Regions from separate parts of the Homo sapiens genome. Here region 1 is linked to region 2. The links come from fine-mapping of genetic effects on gene expression. A gene starts in region 2. The other region holds a variant in brackets. All regions are shown on one strand. Distances are between the middles of the regions.

Evidence for each region.
Region 1: its variant is fine-mapped to the expression of EXOC5 in caudate (GTEx, PIP 0.99).

What each region holds. Positions count from the first base shown.
Region 1 is chr14:56,404,073-56,414,539 of GRCh38, forward strand. All of the region lies in intron 6 of LINC02284 (long intergenic non-protein coding RNA 2284), which reads left to right. Among named protein-coding and RNA genes, the nearest start is that of LINC02284, 98 kb to the left of the region's middle. RefSeq lists an enhancer at 9,593-10,467. The variant C/T (reference allele first, on the strand shown) is at 6,216.
Region 2 is chr14:57,262,787-57,272,985 of GRCh38, forward strand. It overlaps EXOC5 (exocyst complex component 5), which reads right to left and starts at 6,119. Exons shown (of 18, transcript NM_006544.4): 1 at 5,836-6,119. The coding sequence starts at 5,862. It overlaps AP5M1 (adaptor related protein complex 5 subunit mu 1), which reads left to right and starts at 6,185. Exons shown (of 8, transcript NM_018229.4): 1 at 6,185-6,602. The coding sequence starts at 6,529. RefSeq lists a silencer at 5,550-5,609 and enhancers at 5,919-6,502, 6,150-6,349.

The DNA.
Region 1 (10,467 bases), 860 kb before region 2:
CTCATAGCTTAGCTCCCACTTATAAGTGAGAACATGTGATGCTTGGTTTTTCATTCCTGAGTTACTTCGCTTAGGAATAGTGGTCTCCGATTCCATCCAGGTTACTGTGAATGTCATTATTTCATTCCTTTTTATGGCTTAGTAGCAGTCCATAGTGTATATGTGCCACATTTTCTTTATCCACTCGTTGATTGATGGGCCTTTGGGCTGGTTCCATATTTTTGCAGTTGCAAATTGTCCTGATATAAACATGCATGTGCAAGTGTCTTTTTTCATATAATAACATCTTTTCCTCCAGGTAGATAGCCAGTAGTGGGATTGCTGGATCAAATGGTAGATCTACTTTTAGTTATTTAAGTAATATCCACACTGTTTGCTATAGTGGTTGTACTAGCTTACATTCCTACCAGCAGTGTAAAAGTGTTCCCTTTTCACCACATCCATGCCAAAATCTATTATTTTTTTATTTTTAAATTATGGCCATTTTTGCAGGAGTAAGGTGGTATTGCATTGTAGTTTTGATTTGCATTTCCCTGATAATTAGTGATGTTCAACATTTTTGAATGTATTTGTTGGCCACTTGCATACCTTCCTTTTTTTTTTTTTTTTTTTTTTTTGAGACAGAATCTTACTATGTCACCCAGACTGGAGTGCAGTGGTGCAATCTTGGCTCACTGCAACCTCCGCCTCCAAGGTTCAAGTGATTCTCATGCCTCAGCCTCCTGAATAGCTGGGATTACAGGCATGCACCACCATACCTGGCTAAGTTTTGTATTTTTTAGTAAAAACAGGGTTTCACCATGTTGGCCAGGCTCATCTTGAACTCCTGGCCTCAAGCGTTCCACCCACATTGGCCTCCCAAAGTGCTGGGATTACAGGTATGAGCTGCCATGGTCCAGCCTTGTATATCTTTTTTTTTTAGAATTGCCTATTCATGTCCTTAGCCCACTCATTGATAGGATTATTTGGTTTCTTTCTTGCTGATTTGTTTGAATTCCTTGTAGATTCTATATTGGTCCTTTGTTGCATGCATAGTTTGTGAAGATTTTCTCCCAGTGGGTCCCTCCCACACACATGGGAATGGTAGGAGCTATAGTTAAAGATGAGATTTGGGTGGGGACACAGCCAAACCTATATTATTAACCTTGAATGTAAATGGGCTAAATATCCCAATTAAAAGACAGAGTGGCAAGTTTGATAAAAAGGCAATACCTAACTGTATGATGCCTTAAGAGACCTATCTCACATTCATGATAATCATAGGTTCAGAATAAAGGAACAGAGAGAAATCTACCAAGCAAGTGGAAAACAGAAAATAACAGGGATTGATGTTGTAATTTCCGACAAAACAGACTTCAAGCCAACAATGATTGAAAAAGACAAAGAGGGGTATTACATAACGGTAAAGGGTTCAATTCAACAAAAATACCTAACTATCCTAAATATATATCCATCCAACAAGGGGGAAACCAGATTCATAAAGCAAGTTCTTAGAGACCAGCAAAGAGGCTTAGATAGCTACACAATAATAGTGGGAGACTTTAACACCCTACTGACAATATTAGACAGATCTCCGAGGCAGAAAACTCACAAAGATATTTGGGACCTTTATTTGTCCATTCTCACACTGCTATGAAGAAATACCTGAGACTGGGTAATTTATATAGAAAAGAGGTTTAATTGGCTCACGGTTCTGCAAGCTGTACAGGAAGCGTGGCTGGGTAGGCCTCAGGAAACTTGTGGCAAAAGGCAAAAGGGATGCAGGCATGTCTTACACAGCCAGAGCAGGAGGAAGAGTTGAGTGCAGTGCGCTACACTTCTAAACAACTAGATCTCATGGTAACTGACACACTAACATGAGAACAGTACCAAAGGGGAAACCCACCCCCATGATCACCCAATCATCTCCCACCAGGCTCCACCTCTAACATTGGGCATTATAATTTGAAATGAGATTTGGGTGGGGACACAGACCCAAACCATATCAGAACCTAACAGACATCTACAGAACTCTCCACCCCTCCAAAAAATATAGATTTTTCTCATCTGCATATGGCACATACTCTAAAATCAACCAAACAACAAGCAGCCATAAAATAATTCTCAGCAAATTAAAAAAAAAAACAAAATCATACCAACCATACCCTCAGACTACAGTGCAATAGAAATAGAAATTAATACTAAGAAAATCACTCTAAGCCATACAATTACATGGAAGTTAAACAACCTGCTCCTGAATGACTTTTGGGAAAACAATGAAACTAAGGCAGAAATCAAGAAATTGAAACTAATGAGAACAAAGATAAAACATACCATAACCTCAGGACATAGCTAAAGTAGTGTTAAAAGGTAGAGTTGATGGTGAAAAGTTAGAGGACCAGATGCAGTGGCTCACACCTGTAATCCCAACACTTTGGGAGACCAAGGCAGGTGGATTGCTTTGAGCCCAGGAGTTCAAGACCAGCCTGGGCAACATAGTGAAACCCCATCTCTACAAAATATTAGCTGGGCACAGTGGCTCATCCTGTATTCCCAGCTACTTGGGAGGTTTAGGTGGGAGGATTACTTGATTCCAGGAAGCAGAAGTTGCAGTGAGCTGAGATCATACCACTGCACTCCAGCCTGGATGACAGAGTAAGACCCTGTCTCCAAAAAAAAAAAAAAAAAAAAAAAAAAAATCTCAAATTAGCAACCTAACATCACACCAAGAGAAACTAGGAAAACAAGAGCAAACCAACCCCAAAGCTAGCAGAAGACAAGAAATAATCAAAATTAGAGCTGAATTGAAGGAAATTGAGACATAAAAGATTGACAAATCCAAGAGTTAGTTTTCTGAAAGAATAAATAAGATTTAGAGACTTCTGGCTAGACTAATAAAGAAAAAAGAGAAGATGTAAATAAACACAATCAGAAATTACAAAGGGGACATTACCAGTGACCCTACAGAAATACAAAAAATCTTCAGACAACTATGAATACCTCTGTGCACACAAGCTAGAAAACCTAGAAGAAATGGATAAATTCTTGGAAACAAAGAACCTCCCAAGATTAAACTGGAAAGAAACTGAATCTCTGAACAAACCAATAAGGAGTTCTGGAGTCAAATTAGTAATAAAAAGCCCACCAACCAGAAAAAGCCCAGGACCAGATGGATTCATGGCCAAATTTTACCAAATAAAGAATAACTGGTACCATTCCTACTGAAACTTTTCCAAAAAATTGAGGAGAAGTAACTCCTCCCTAACTCATTCTCTGAAGCTAGCATCATCCTGATACCAAAACCTGGCAGAGTCACAACAAATAAAGGAAACTTCAGGCCAATATTGTTGATGAATGTAGATGCCAAAACCCTCAACAAAATACTGGCAAACTGAATCCAGCAGCACATTAAAAATCTAATCCACCATGATCAAGTAGGCTTTATCCCTGGGGTGCAAGTTTGGTTCAACATATGCAAATCAATAAACGTGATTCCTCACATAAACAGAACTAAAAACAAAAACCACATAATCATCTTAATAGATGCAGAAAAGACTTGATAAAATTGAACATCCCTTTATGTTAAAAATCCTTAATAAACTAGGCACTGAAGGAGCATACCTCAAAATAATTAAAGCCATCTACAAAAAACCCACAGCCAACATTATACTGAATGGACAAAAGCTGGAAGCATTCCCCTTGAGAACAAGACAAGAACATACCCACTCTCACCACTCCTATTCAACATGGTACTGGAAGTCCTAGCCAGAGCAATCAGGCAAGAGAAAGAAAGCATCCAAATAGGAAGAGAGGAAGTCAAACTGTCTCTGTTTGCATATGATATAATTCTATACCTAGAAAATCCCATAGTCTCTGCCTAAAAGCTCCTACATCTGATTAAACAACTTCAGCAAAGTTTCAAGATATAAAATTAATGTACAAAAATCAGTAGCATTTCTATATGCCAACAATGTCCAAGGTGAGAGCCAAACCAATAACGTGATCCAATTCACAATAGCCACAAAAAGAGTAAAATACCTAGGAATACAGCCAAACAGGGAGATGAAAGACCTCTACCACAAAAATCACAAAACTCTGCTCAAACCGTCAGATTTGACACAAACAAATGGAAAAACACTTCATGCTCATGGATAGGAAGAATCAATAATGTTAAAATGGCCATACTGCCCCAACCAATTTAGAGTCAATGCTATTTCTATCAATCTACCAATGGTATTCTTCACAGAATTAGAAAACTATTTCAAAACTTACATGAAAGCAAAACAGAGCACGAACAGCCACAGCAATCCTAAGCAAAAAGAACAAAGAGGTGTCACACTACCTGACTTCAGACTATACTACAAGGCTACAGTAGCCAAAACAGCTTGCTGCTGGTACATAAATAGACACAAACCAATGTAACGTAATAGCCGAGAAAGAATGCCACACACCTACAACCATCTGATCATCAACAAAGTCAATAACAATGGGGAAAGAACTCCCTATTCAACAAGTGGCTAGCCATATGCAGAAGATTGAAAATGGACCCCTTCCTTACATCATATACAAAAATCAGCTTCAGATGGATTAATAATTTAAATGTAAAACCTAAAACTTTAAAAACCTTGAAAGGCAACCTAGGAAATACTATTCTGTAAAGGGCCCTGTCAAAGATTGCATGACAAAGATGCCAAAAGCAATTGCAACAAAAACAAAAATTGACAAATGGGACTAAACTAAAGGGTTTCTGCAAAGCAAGAGAAACTATTAACAGAGCAAAAAGGCAGCCTACAGAATGGAAGAAAATATGTGCAAACTGTGCTCCTGACAAACGTCAAATATCCAGAATCTATAAGGAATTTAAACAAGCCAAAAACAATCCCTTTAAAAAGTGAGCAAAGGACATGAACAGACACTTTTCAAAAGACATACACAAAAGCAACAAGCATATTAAAATATGCTCAACATCACTAATCATGAAAGGAATGCAAATCAAAACCACGATGAGATACCTACCGTCTCACACCCATCAGGATAGCTATTATTAAAAAGTCAACAGATGCTGTCAAGGTTGCAAAAAAAAAAGGGAAGACTTCTACACTGCTGGTGGGAATGTAAATTAGTTCAGCCGTTGTGGAAAGCAGTTCGGTGATTTCTCAAACTTAAAACTATCATTCATTCCAGCAACCCCATTATTGGGTATATACCCAAAGGAATGAATATAAATTTTTCTACTCTAAAGACACATACGCATCCATGTTCATCACAGCACAATTCACAATAGTGAAGACGTAGAATCAACCTAATGGCCTGTCAGCAGTAGCCTTGATAAAGAAAATGTGGTACATAGACAGTATGGAAGCCTATGCAGCCATTAAAAAGAACAAGATCATATCCTTTGCAGCAACATGGATGAAGCTGGTGGCCATTGTCCTAAGCTAACTAATGCAGGAGCAGAAAACCAAATACTGCATGCTCTCACTTATAAATAGGAGCTAAATATTGAGTACACAGGGACACAAACAAGGGAATGACAGACACTGGAGCCTACTTGAGGATGAAGGGTGGGAGGAGGGTGAGGGTATACATATCAGATACTATGCATATTACCTGGGTGATGAGTAATCTGTACACCAAGTGCCCATGATATGCAATTTACCTATATAACAAATCTATACATGTACCCCTGAAACTAATAGTTAAAAAAAACTTTTGTAGTTTTAGTATTTCCATTTTTGTCTTTGATCTATTTTGAGTTAGTTTTTATATATGGCATGATGAAAGGGACCAACTTCTTTCTTTTGCCTGTGGCTATCCAGTTGTTCTAGCGCCATTTGTTGAAAAGATTGTTCGTCCCCTCATTGAATTGCTCTGACACTTCGGTCACAATTCAATTGGCCATTAATTAACAGCTTCTTTGTGCACTTTCAATTCTATTTCAATGATCTATAAGTCTATCTTCATGCCAGTACCATACTGTCTTAATTATTGGATCTTTGTCATAGGTTTCAAAATTGGGAAGTATGAATCCTCCTATTTTTTTTTTCAAGATTGTTTTGGCTCCAGAACTGTGGGAAATAAATTTCTGTTGCTTAAAATCTGCCCAATTTGTGGTATTGTGTTATAGCAACCAAAATGGACTAAGGCAAGCAGCCTTCCATAAGTTTTGATATGTTGTGGTTTTCTTTTTTTCATCTCAAAGTATTATTTCCTTTCCCTTGTGATTCCTTCTTTAA[C/T]TCATTGGTTATTTAGAAGTGTGTCTTTTAATTTTCACGTTTGTGAATTCCTGAAATTTCTTTCCATTACTGATTTCTAATTTCATTCCATTGTGTCATAGAAGATTCTATGATTTTCATCTCTTTAACATTATTGAGACTTCTTTCTATAGCCTAACGTGTGTTCTATTTTGGGGAATGCTGAGTGTTTGCTTGATGCAACGTGTGTTCTGTTGTTTGGTGGAGTGTGCTATAGATTTCTGTTATGTTTAGCTGTTTTATAGTGTTGTTCAAGTCTTCCATTACCTTGTTGATCTTCTGCCTTGTCAGCCTATCCCTTATTAAAAGTGGGATATTGAAATTTACAACTATTACTGCTGAATCTAATTCTTCCTCAATTCTATTAATCATTCATGTATTTTGGGCCTCTGTTATTAGGGACATACATGTTTGTAATTGTTATGTTTTCCTGATGGAATGGTCATTCTGTGATTATAAAATGTTCTTTTTATCTCTAGTAACAATGGTCTTAAAGTCGATTTTTCTGTTAATATTATAGCCACTCCAGCTCTTTTTAGGTTACTGTTTGCATAGCAGATCTTCTTCCTTCCTTTCACTTATTTGTTTTTGAATCTTGAGTGTCTTTAGACTTAAGCTCCAAACCCATTCTTCTTCCTTCAGTAACTGCTAGGCTGCTGTTTTTACAGTTACCATGGCTGTAAGGCTGTTCACTTTTGAGACTACTATGAAACTGTGGAGAAGGGAATGGGGATAGGGCAAGCTAGAATGTCACAAAGCTTGCTGTTTTTACCAATAGTCAGCTGCTTTTCTTGAAGAAATGCACCTCAGAGTGTTGTATACCTTTGGCTAATTTCCACAATTCTGAAAAAAATTGATTTTGACTATTTTTGCCAGGATGTTTATTGCTTCTTATGGAAAAGTCTATTTTTGGAGGTCATTACTCTACCATTCCAGAAATGTTTCCCTAGAATCTGAATTCCCACAAGATCCTCAGATAGTTGTAGGCACATAAAAGTTTGAGAAACCTTGGTTTATAGGATATCACCTGTCCCTAAATTTTCTGGATATCTTCATTTGAAGTTATCAGGTGACCAAGGAATCTTCCAATTGGTTTGGATTCTAACTGTATATAGGTAATATCTAATATGAAAAGTTTATATTGTCAGATCCTACAATGATTAAAAAAAAAAACAGCCTCTGTCTACCTTTGTGCTTATTTCTGGAAATGTTTGTATGAGCCTTGATCATTTTATTTGATTGTCACTCATTAATTAACATAAAAGTTTCCACTTGGTATAATTTTTTGGCATCTTCTCACCAAACATGGGTGTTGCTGGCTATTCTAAATGAACTCAGAATACCCTATCTCCTGACCCAAGGGTAGCCTGTTTTCTGTGACAAAGTAAACAAAATAGTTTCTTCCTAGCTTTTGTTTATTTGTTTGTTTCCTGAAAGAGCCATTGTGTTTCAAGGAGAAGAAGAAGAAGAACGGAACAGTTTGCTTCCTTGGAGTGCAACTGTCCCCGGGCTGGTTAGGAGGTGTAATGTGGAGCAAAGGCCGTGCGCTGAGAGGAAATATGGCCTGGTTTCCCTCTGCCTCATCCTGGGTTCTCCTCTCACCATTTCTACTCATCTTCTTACACATCTTTCTTTTTCCTTCTTTCTTCCTATTTCTTCCCCATTTGTCTTATTCAGTAAGAACTCATTTATTGGTCAGTTCACAGGATTTTCTGCTTTTCAGAGAAATTTTGGAGCAAAACTTGATTTCCTTTTCTGATCTGTGACCCTATGTCCTTTCTGGCCTTGTCTGCCTCTCTTAGCCTGAACCTTTCCCTTTTCTCTTTCCTTATTGTCCCAACATTTTTAAGTAAAAAAATTATGTTGAGAGCACATCTCTTCCTCTTGGACATGGATGTAGAATTTGCCAAATTAACCACTCATGTCCATCCTTAATGTCCTACAACCAGGCCACTCTGCCATTAGAGAGAAGCAACTTTTTTTTCAGTATAGAAGAAAAGGAGGAGTTATGCTTCAAAGGAGAAAAATACTTCACCACCTCAATTGCTAATTTTGCTGAAGTCTTCAAAAATAACAAAATAAAATGTAAATCAATAGCTGCATGAAGAGGAACAGGCACTAGAACCGAGCTGTCTTGGACAAGAAGACGGGTGGGTACTGCTCAGGCTGAAATGCATTGGCTTGGATTTAACATATAGATGAAGCACAGCTCGGTGCCTTTAGCTGGTAAGAATCAAATCGTGAGGCTAAACACTAAATTAGCTGTGTGCCTGTACCTCACAGCAGAGCCAAAATGAGGCACTGTTTTTTTATCCCTGCACCTTCCGATGCCTGCCAAAAAGAATTCAAGCAAGGAAAAATATGCCTCCTGTTGTTTGGGGGAGTTACAAGATACATTTAAAAATTGATTTATGGTTTAATCGCTTTTGAAGCTTCATTATTCCAAGTATTAGCGTGAAAGACCATCTGATCCAGCAGACTTATTTGTTAATGCACCGACAGCAGCAACAGATGTGCTGTTTTTCATCTACAACCCGATCTGCTGGCTGATTCATCTGCTTCCGTTTTCATTTTCCTGTCATTGATTTATTAATGATGTCTTACTTATCTGTGGTTCTTTTATGGGGTGGGCTTCCTCTGGCATGGTCTCAAGAGAGATGTTTTTGCACCTTCCCCAGGCATCAAAAACCCAGCCCCCTTCTCCGGTGTTCTTTATCACCACTCCAGAGATTAGAGACTTTAATCATTTAGTAACTGAAATAACCTCCGTGGCTTGCAGAGTTTATGGCCAATTTGTCTTCATTGCACCGAATTCAACTGCTTTTCTTTGCTAAGGAATGGGCCTTGCTTATTATGCTCCTTCTTTGCACCAGAGGGAATCAGTGTGTTGTCTACAGACCCAATGCAGATAGTGGGTGGCTATGAGTGGCTCAGGACCATGAAAGTATGGCTCAGAGAACACATGTATGTATACCATAGGGCTATTAGCATGTTGAGTTGCTTAGAGTTTGGCTGTGGCTTTCAGCTCCAAGTAGCAAAGGAAGGGTAGACAGGAGGGTTGAAATTCTGGGACCATTTGCAGGACCATCACTGGGATTGTCTACTCCAAATGCCACATGGACCCCTTTTGTTGTCTATGTTAAAAAGGAAAAAAAAAGACCTTGGTTTGTTTTGAAACCTGAGACCCCTAGAAAACTTAAGATGCTGGGTAATTGAGACTTACAAAGATGTATTTCACCTAAATTTTACCTGAGAATCTGAAAACGATGACTTGTTATGCAGTTAAGGTTTGTAAAACTCCATATGTGTTAGGTAGGTCGTTGTAGACGATGTCATGATTCTCTGTCTAGATCCTCCCAGCAGCCTCAAGCACTCATTCCATCTCCCCAAGGCTGACAACTCTTAACTAAGTCCTTGTTTGGGACTTGTTCTGGGTTAAAGAGAGCCAGTCACCTTGACCAAGGTTACACTTCCTTCCAAGGGGCAACCCTTACTGGGTGCCTGCCCCACTCATCTCAACTTGAGACCACGCTGCAGGGCCATCCTGGCTCCAGAGCTCGCCATGGGATCAGTGAGGCCTCTGTTGTGGTAGCATCGTGGTTCATCTTCTCCCTTGGCCCAGTTCTGCTTCCTTCACTGTCCTAAAAGAGATGGTCCCCAGAGCAGTTCCACTTCCTAATAAGCTTTTTGTGGGCAAAACTGTCTCAGATTTTCTCAGGGATCCAAACCTGCAACAGTTGGTACAAAGAGTGATAAATCACCAGAAGTCTTCCTTTGCAGCATATACAGAGACTCATCTCCTGCAGTTGGAGAGCTGATAAACTGAAGGACGGCCAAGGGCTTAATCAAGAAAGTAGCAGAGCTCCAGAGAAGGTTGCGTTCTTAGCCCTGACAGGTCTGCTGTGCTAAGGCCTGGAGTGGGACCTGGGCCTGGGATAGGTATATCTGGGTTGGTGTACTAGAAAAGTGGGAATTTCCAGATTCTTCTGAACCCTCTGGGACCACAGTTGGGTCCCACTGCTCTTTGTTAAAGGCTAATGCTCCTCCCTTGCCTGAAGATGTCACAGAGGTCTCTGTTTTACAAGGCAACATGCTCCTCCTCCCCCAAATCCGCTCACAGCTTCCCTCTTGATCAACAGGCATGTGAATAGGGTTGAGTCATACCTTGACTTGTTTGGGGAAGCAGTGGGTCTGCTGGAAAAGAAAAAGGCTGCACTGGAAAGGGGCTGCAGGA
Region 2 (10,199 bases):
TGCAAGGGTCCTTCTAATTTTCTCTGTCACAGTTAATGAATCACCAACCACCTACTTTTCAAAGTTTACAAATTTGGAATTTTAACTCCTCAGTAATCAAATTCCTTTAATTCTTCCTCCAAAATTCTTTTCAAATTTCTTCTCTGTCACCATTGAATTAGGTTAGACTTTCATCTGGCCAGATTAATCAGTCAACAGATAATTCTGGAACACTTACCAAATGACAAGAACTATGTCAGGTTGCCCACGATCCCTATTTTCCCAGCTAACAATTTCTTCCCCCATAGAAGGCCATTCTTCACACTAACATTAAAATTGTCTGTCTCCCTGACCCTTACCCAAAAAAAGTAAGGTCAGCCCTCTTGCATGAGGTATAAAAAGCCTTCTTAAAACTTCCCCCAGGCTGGACCCAGTGGCTCATGCCTATAATCCCAGCACCTTGGGAGGCCCTAGGTGGGAGGACCACTTGTGTCCTGGAGTTGGAGACTAGCCTGGGCAATACAATGAGACCCCGTCCCTACAAAAAATAAAAAATTAGCCAAGCATGGTGGCACATGCCTGTAGTCCCAGCTACTCAGGAGGCTGAGGTGGGAGGATCGCTTTTGCCTAGGAGGTCGACGCTGCAGTGAGCTGTGATTACACTACTGCACTCCAGCCTGGGTGACAGAGCAAAACCCTGTCTCAAAAAACAAAAAAACTGGCCAGGCACGGTGGCTCACGCTTGTAATCCCAGCACTTTGGGAGGCCGAGGCAGGTCGATCATGAGGTCAGGAGTTCGAGACCAGCCTGGCCAACACAGCGAAAGCCCATCTCTACTAAAAATAAAAAAATTAGCTGGGCATGGTGGCAGGCACCTATAATCCCAGCTACCCAGGAGGCTGAGGCAGGAGAATCGCTTGAAACCAGAGGCAGAGGTTACAGTGAGCTGAGATCACGCCACTGCACTCCAGCCTAAAAAAAAAAAAAAAAAAAAAAAGCAAAAAAACAAAAAAACTGCCCTCGAACTCCTATGGTCTCAATGCCTTGCCACCACTCCCTATTCTTAAAATATGCACATACACATCCTAACTCTTCTCAACTGCCTCACCTTACAACAAACTGGAGCCATCTTGTGTCTCTGCCTTGGAATGCCCTTCTCCTGTCTGAAAAATCTCTACTCATCCATCAACATCCAATTTCTATATGCCATTACTAAATGAAACCTTTCCTAATAATCCCTGGAAAAGATTCTATACTCCCACTGCGCTGTATTAATGTATTAACATGTCTGTCTTCCTCAACCAGATGCTTAACTCAACATCTTTTAACTCTAGTACCTGGAATGTCTGGCCTACAGATTCATTCAACGTTTGCAGAATGAATACATTCTATCATATCCATGTTACTACAATTGGTAGCCAAGGTCTATAAACACTTAACAACTAATATGGTTAAAATAAATAGCATTTCAGCACCTTGACAGTAACGGGGTGCTCCTTACTTGTGTATCTCATGTTCGTTAGTATATACCTGGCTAGCTAATTGAACAAGAGACATCATTTTCAACAACTCTGTTTAACTAGCTTTTGTAATTTAGTTTGAAAAATTAAGAGACAAATAAATGTGGGAAAAGGTGTTCTTCAATATTCATACTCTAATTTGGAAGTCAAACAGCCATTGCTATCATAGCCAAATTACCTGACCTCAAGCACTATTATCAAGGAACCTATATTTACAGAAAGAAAAAAAAATGAAATTTTAATCCTGGCATTTAGGACCTCCAAAATTAAACCCCGATTTACCTTACATGCCACTCTTCCTCTTTATGTGTGCTATATATACTCCAGCCAAAATGAATGCTCCCCTTATCTCCAGGGCCTACAACCCTCCCTTTATGTCTTAGCTTTTATTGTCTGCTTTACTGAAAAGTCCCTCCATCCAGTTCCACAAACTCAAATCTAATTTATCCTCTGTAGGTAATTCAAATGCCACCTTCTAATCCTTTCTTTCTTCTAGAGGCAATCTTCCCATCCTCTCAACACCTATGGCACATCTAGACCTCTTTGAAACCATTTATAACCTTATTTTTAAGAGTATAGTATCATATATCCACCTTCTCTCCCTCTATTTGATAAGGACAAGTTCTATACTTAATTCTATTTTCCAAAATATGTACCTTGTAATTCACAAAATTAAGTTAACAAGCAGTAGAAAATAAAAGTCTCTTTAAAAAAGAAAGAAAACAGTCTCATGGTGAAAAAAGTTGGGGAAATGGACTTCTCATCATCTTTAACATATTAAGGTATACCGCAAATCTCCAACGAAACAGACTATGCTCATTTCCATAACTTACTTGGTCACTGAACCCTTTTTTTTTTTTTTTGCGACACATCTCATAGGATTAATATTTCTATGGCATGCCCTTTGAGACATGCAGCCTCGTCAATTTCAGAACTTTATCTTGAACTTAAAAGGTACTCAACAAATATCTGTAGAATGAATGAATAATTAACCCTAGTTACTAACCAAGAACTCTCCCGTAATGGTAGCCCAAACAGAGAAAAGCGAAGATTCTTGAAGAATTATGGGGGAAAAAATTAAGCAAATGAGGAAAGAATGTCCTCAGTAGTACAATAAAAGGAGAGAGGAACATTTGCAACAACATAAAAAGAACTGGCGGGGCACGGTGGCTCACACCTGTAATCCCAGCACCTTGTGGGGCCAAGGTGGGCAGATTGTTTAAGCCCAGGAGATCAAGACCAGCCTGGGCAACATGGTAAAACCTTATTTCTGCAAAAAATTTTTAAAAATCAGCTGGGCATGGAGGCAGGCACCTCTAGTCCCAGCTACTCTGGAGGCTAAGGTGGGCAGATGGATTGTGCCAGGAGGGTAGAGGCTGCAGCGAGCAGTGATTACCCAACTGCACTCCAGCCTATGCGATAGAGCAAGACCCTGTCTCAAAAACAAAGAAAAGGAATTTCTGAGCCCAGCCACTTTGTATATGTAGAAGATACAATTTATCTACACCACATAAGAATCCTTACTCAGAATGTCTATCCTGAGGAGATTTTAAAACACTGTACATGGATCTTTTCAGAAAGATCTGTCAACAAAAGTTGAAACTAAGAAGGTATTCTGAGAAACTTCCAGGATATACACTATTACAATAGCCAAATCATCTATTACTAAATCATTTCGGTCAACTGAGGAAATATATTACAGTTTGATTTTGTTATATGAAGTTGTTTTCATTGAGAGTCATGGGACCAATAAGATTTTAAAAGAAGCAGAGTTAACATAATGAAATGTCATGGATTCAAAAGCTTAATTTTGTTTTCATTTAACTTCTCCTAACATGAAAAGTGAAAGCATAATTCTATTTAACAGTGCATGAAAATCAGGATGCATAAAAACCAAACATCCTTGACTACATCCTGCCTTCCGTTTTCCACAGTTCTCCAGCTGGGACTAAGAAAGGGAAGCAGGAGAAAAAGATACTTCCCGTGACTCTTACTACAACCTAGATGCTATGGCAGTAGTTACAGGAAACTGAGCAGTGACAGGATTTTTTTTCCTCCTCCCTCCAAGGCCAAGAGATCAACTTTTCACTTGGGGATGAAAACTTACTCAAGAGTAGAGTCCACTGTAGGGCTGGATTCATAGCAGTACCAGAAAAGATAAATGCACTTCTTAATTATAACTATTGAAACTTAATTGTAACTATTATGCTTTTAATTATGATGAAGCAACAAGCTACATATAGTCAAGAAAAAAAGTCACGTCAGTTTTAAGATCTATAAATACGTTTAAATTTGTCCTAAAAACCCTCTGGCCTAAGGGTAGTCTAAGGGCTACTGTCTCTATTATCACAGAATCTTACTGGCTACCATGTAACTAGAGTCACTAAATTACATTATATATATGTATGTTATATATACGTTATATATATATATGTGTATGTGTGTGTGTGTATATATATATATATATAAAACGTATATATATACTACTTAACCTAATAGCAGGACCCCAGAAAGCAAAATATATATTTCCCCACCTCCTCCCCTTCCCCGCTAGGGAGAGGGGAAAAAAAAAAATCAAACATATTTCCAAATAAGTTACTGAAATCATGTGGTCAAACATTTAAATAAAAATATACATAAGATGGTCCAAGGTACAACTGGAACTGTCAAGCAGGATTAACTCAAAGGATAATGTCTTATGAACTGTATGACAACATATATAACAGTTTTCAGTTAAGAGCTGGCTTGCCGGCAAATACCTTAATTAAAGATCTCATACAACTTCATCGTTTTCTCCCTTTTTAAGATGTGAAAAATAAAACAAGGAACCACAGCACTACTTAGTACCTAGGGACACAGTAAAAGTTCCTAGCAGGAAAAATGTCTCCCCGTTCTTGTGTCAATAAACAGATGGCACAATTTTGGAATTACAGAAATTAATGTAGCATATCTCCCAACACTTAAGTGAGAAAATACAATATCTCTGAAGTCTTTCTTGTAATTACAATCCTTCATTCACAAATTACTGTCTTATTACAACTTATTATAACAATAACATATATTACTCCTCTCAAAAAAAGCATTATCTATCCAAAAGCTGACTGATATGCAAAATATAGTAACAATAACAAATGTAAATTTCCATTTGTTATTAAAACTGTGGCATTCAAATTGTAAGCCACAAAAACTGCTGAATCTTACGCAGAAAAAGGATACCATTTTCACTTATGGAGAAGTTCCCTATTGTGGATTACAGTCTTCTCAATTATTACACTTTTGTTACTCAATGTGAAACACAAGCACACACACAAAAAAGGGGTCTTTCTTTCCTTTTTCTTATCCGTTTTCATTTCTTTCACACAAGGAGATGCTTTATACGTGTCATTGTTTTGTAGCCTAATTAGAGTTTTCCTATTCTATTATCTCAAACTTTTATCACAGCTTCTTACAACGGACTTCACGAAATTAAATTTTAAGGTTTAGATACTGTAAACGCTCGAGGAAAGACATTAGTATTCTCACTATTACATATTAAGGATTCTCTAGCTTGCAGTTAGGTGATTTTATAATACATGTAAATGCATATAATACACTTAAGGTGCATTATATACATGAAACGAAGTGTTCGTTTTATTTTATAAACTTTTTTTATTTTATAATACACGTAAATGCCTCGAGTGTATTATTATGTATTACATGAAATAAAGTGTTCACTTGAATTTTGCCTCCCTTCAGTCTATCTCTCTTCAGTCGAAAGAGATAAGTAGGCCTTTATTGTCCAAAAAAAAAAAAATTGTCCCAGCCTTTTCAAATGTCAGGTTAAACTGGCAGTCCTATGAATGCCACCTGCAACCTTACTAATGGAATAATTACTCAAAACGAGAAGCCCCCAAGAGTCCCGATCTCAAGTGGCTTCCTCCTATTATTCCCGCGAGGACCCCAGCGACAAGACTCGCCCAACCTGAGGCTCCTGGCTCTCTTTCCTCGTCCTGAGTCAGCCCTTCCCACTACTCATCCGGAGTAGACATCTTCCAACACCCGAACCTTCCAGACTTTCCCTCTTGCCCCCACAAACAAAAGCAACCCTCCTCCCTTGGGACACCCGGCTTCCCCTCTCTGCCGACCGGCCGCCCAGCCCACCTCGGCCCCAAGCACCCCTCCCCCATTTCACGCTCCGCCCGCGCTGACACGGAGCTGCCACCCCAACCCTTCTGTTTCGCACCTCTCTCCCGAGGGCTCCTCCTGGGCAGCCAGCAAACGCCCGCTCCTCGGCCCGCCCACCCAGCTGCCTGCAAACCCCGGGCCTGCCACTCCCTGTAGAGCCGCCGGGGCCCACCTCGAAGAGCTCGGCCGTGGTAGCCATCCCGGCCGGCTGAGAGGCTCGCCCCCCACTGGATGCCGTCTCCGCTTCACATGCTGCGCCTCAGAGGCGCGGCGCACAGGTCTCCGCTCGGCTCGCCAGCTCCGGCTCCGGGCCGCTGCGGGCTCCCCAGCTCCCCACAGATCCCAGGAGGGGCGGGAGAGCGGCCATGAAGCGAAGCCGCAAACGCTTGTCAGCTGCCTCCCGGCGCCGCCCGCGCTGCTCCCATTGTCACCGCCTCATACGCCGGAAGTGGAACTGCGCGCGCCAGGGAGGTTGTCGGGAGGGGCCGGCGAATAAAACGAGCGGCGAAAGAACCGAAAAAAGGCTCGACGCTACCGTGTATGAGGAACTTTGATCCTTGCGGGCCACCATTCCGGAAGTAGAATTTAGAGGAAGAAAATACCGGAGTTGCAGGGTATAGGTAAATTTCTCAAGGTTATAGGTTGGGGTTCTTAGAACTTTTTGTGGTGTGTGTTGGCCTAGAGCGACTCAGAAGCGTTAGTGACTTCACCTAAAAAAGCTAACCTCTCTGCTGAGCGCGACCGGTATGCGGCGCAGGATGAGCCTCAGGGCTTCTGTTAAGAGTCTGTCTGAGAAAGCCGGTCTGCGCTGTTCCTCGGTGGCGACCTTAATTATGAGATGAGCTAATGCTTTACTGACTTAACCATGGCGCAGCGGGCAGTGTGGCTCATAAGCCACGAACCGGGAACTCCACTTTGTGGCACCGTGAGATTCTCCAGGTAAATGCAAATCTGAATCCTCAGGGATGATGGATCAGAAGATCGATGAAGTAGCATAGTTTTGTGGTGCTTCGTGGCCCAGGTTTGCCACGAATAGCTGCGTGACCTTGGGCTAGCCAGTTAACAGACCTCTGTTTCGTCTGTTAAATGGAGATTTTAATAGTCCTACCTTACAGTGTTGTGAGAATTGAGTTGATGACTGGTACATATTATTTACGGTATATGTTTTCTATTAGTATTGTGTTTTAAAATGACCTCCGTCTGCTTAGAATTAAAATGGAGATGACTAAGGGAACGGTAGAAAATTTACTGAGCACTAAACATTTTCAGATTTTTCAACATGCATTGACAAAATCGTTCCAGAACATTTTAACTTATTCTACTGAAAAATCCATGCTAAGTTATATCAGACTTTTATTTTTTTGTTTTTATTTTTTTGAGACGGAGTCTCGCTCTGTTCCCCAGGCTAGAGTGCAGTGGTGCGATCTCCGCTCACTGCAAGCTCCGCCTCCCGGGTTCATGCCGTTCTCCTGCCTCAGCCTCCCGAGTAGCTGGGACTACAGGCACCCGCCACCACGCCCGGCTAATTTTTTGTATTTTTGGTAGAGAGGGGGTTTCACCGTGTTAGCCAGGATAGTCTTGATCTCCTGACCTCGTGATCCGCCCGCCTTGGCTCTCAAAGTGCTGGGATTACAGGCAGGAGCCACCGCGCCCCGCCCAGGCTTTTATTTTTATCTTGTTAATATGTGTCAATGGTAGAAATCATCAGTTTACAGTTCCTAATTGTTGAAGAAAATAGAAACACAAAAAAATGTATTCACTATTTCATATATTGTGTTAAGTTGATCTGGTCCCACTATTAGAATTTGCCCTGTGTAATCAAAATAGCTCTGTTAAGGGAATTGTACAGTAACTCATTGTAAAATGTTGGTGGCAATCGAGTGGGTCTATTTCACCTTTTATTCTCTGGCCATTGATAGTTCTTTTTTGTCACAATTCGTTCTTCCCTGAAGAAAGCTTATAGTGAAGTAGTACCATAGTAGAATTGAGATTGAGGCAGAAAAAAAAGATTTTAATTTTAAATGAAAATTGGTTGGCAATGGGGATATGAAAAATTCCTTCTTTGCAACCTTAACAGTTTTTGTTCCTGAGGGCATCAGAGTTGGAGTTTACCATTTCCCCCCAGGATTTCTGGCTGACACTAACCCCAACATTTGTTGTTGGACCTCAAATACAGGAGATTAATAATATTCTTTAGTACGTGGTTTTACCAGGCGCATCAGTCCGTACAAAGTATCTCTCATTTTACTTATATTCCCTTTGGTTACCTATTTCTAACTGCCGTTCCCTTCCCACTGACAGATAACTCTTAACATCTTCGATGTTACTCTTTTTCATTGTATGCATTTTTCAAATTACATAATTAAGTGTGCTTTAGACTTCACTTCCTAATGTTACATTTGTCACATTTCTCAACACTATTTTAAAGAAACATCCATGATACTTTGTGTTCATCTAAGGCAGCATGTCCAATAGAATTCTCTATGATGATGGAAAGGAGAAATGTTCTTAATCTGTACTGGCTAATACTGTAGCCACTAGCCACAAGTACCTATTGAGCTTTTGAGCTGCAGCTAGCATAACTGAGGAACTCAATTGTTAATTTTGGGTAATGTTAATTGATTTTTATTTAAGTTTAAATAGCCACATGTGGGTAGTTCTACTATGTTGGACAGTGCAAATCTAGGCCATTGTTTCTTCTTGCTCTGTAGTACTCATGGTTCACATCCTACACATTTACCTGTCCCCTTTACCTAGTGATGACCTCTCCCAAATTTGCCTCCAAAGAACACTGCCAAAGTATGCATCCTCAAATCTGTCCATGGGGCATGTCTATGCCGATTTTGACTAAAGACTGCCAAATAATCTGCTCCACAGAATGCTTTCAGCCACCTACGCACTCACTAGCAGCAAGAAGGGGTTCCCGTATCTCCATTCTTTCCTAACATGTAATTTTTGCCAATAAAGAACATCTTATTTTCGTTTGCATTTCTGTATGTAGCAATGATTGTTAGTCCTTTAAGTTTCCTCTACTGTGAATTGCCTGTACATGTCTTGTCCTTTTTTTCTTTGAAAGTTGCTTATTTTTTCCTCTGAATTTGTAGGAGTTTGTTTTGTATTCTTGGTATTAGTCCTATGTCATTTTTAGATAGTACAGATATTTTCTTTAATTTACCATTGTCAATTAACTTTATGTTGCCCTTGGTTAAACAGAAATCACTAATTTTGATGCAATCAAACTAGTTAATTGCTTTTGGGAATTTGTTGAAGTTTTTTCTCACCCATATTTCCCAAAAATATCTTCCTACATTGTCTTCTCTTTATAATTTCATCTGCTACATTTAGGTCTTTAACCCATATGTAGTCCATCTTTGGATATGATGTTAAGTAGGAATCCCATTTCGGTTTTCTCTGTAGTGTGGGTCAGTTTTTCTGACATCATCTTTTAAGCAGTATGTCATGTCTTCATTAATTTGTGAGGCTACTGGTAGTGTTAGTTATGTCCCCTCATATAAATGTTGGTCTGTCTCAGTTCTAGTACTTTGTCTTTCTTGTACCAATACAATATCTGTTGCTTTGTAGCTTATCTTAATATTTCATAGAGGTGAACTTTTTACTGCTTAAGTAAATAAGTTTCTTAAATCCTAGTTTTCAGAATGTTTTTTCACTGTGTTCAGGATATTATTTCAGAATAAAAAGTCAGATATGTTTGGATGGGCTTTTCAATACATTTATGGAGGTAGCAAGTTGTGTTCAAATAATTTAATTCTGTATCATTGAATGACTTAGTTAAATTTTATTATATTTTCAGTTTTCTAACCTCTTGGGGGAGGTGTTAGAGCTACACAGATAGGCACTGACACTTTATAAGTGTCAATAAGTGGCCAATATTTAAGATTTAAGAAGGCAAATGATGTTTTCTCTATCTAAGTACTTATTTCCTATAACAAAACTTGGTTAAGATTCTGGTTTAAAGGTTTGCTTTCCAGATAATAATAGCATCAGCTTACATCTGGCTTAGGTCGGTATCATACCCCATAGTTGTAGGCCCATTTAAGCCTTGAATCCTGTTTTAGAAAAAGCATATAATAAATTAGAAATGATAGGTTGAGTCATCCAACAAAATATTTATTGAACACATATTGGGGTGTTGTGTAAGTTCCCAGATTAACTTATCTTCACAGTCAATTGTGAAATTTTTATACTTAAGAACTTTAATTACCCTCTGGAAAACTAGATAATAAGAGATTGGACTAGAGTTTAGTCCAGAGATCTCTACTATTCATATACAGAGATTTAGAGAAATAAATGGCATTTACCTGCTATGCCATGCCATTACTGGTGTGCTACCTGATTCTTCCCCTTTCTTAATCAAGAAAATGCATCAGAATGTAGGTGATATTTACCTACACATGGGTAACTGCTTTTGGGTTTTTTGTTTGTTTGTTTGCTTGCTTGCTTGCTTGGTGTTTTTCTTTTTGTTTGTTTGTTTTTTGAGATGGAGTCTCACTCTGTTGCCCAGGGTGGAGTGCAGTG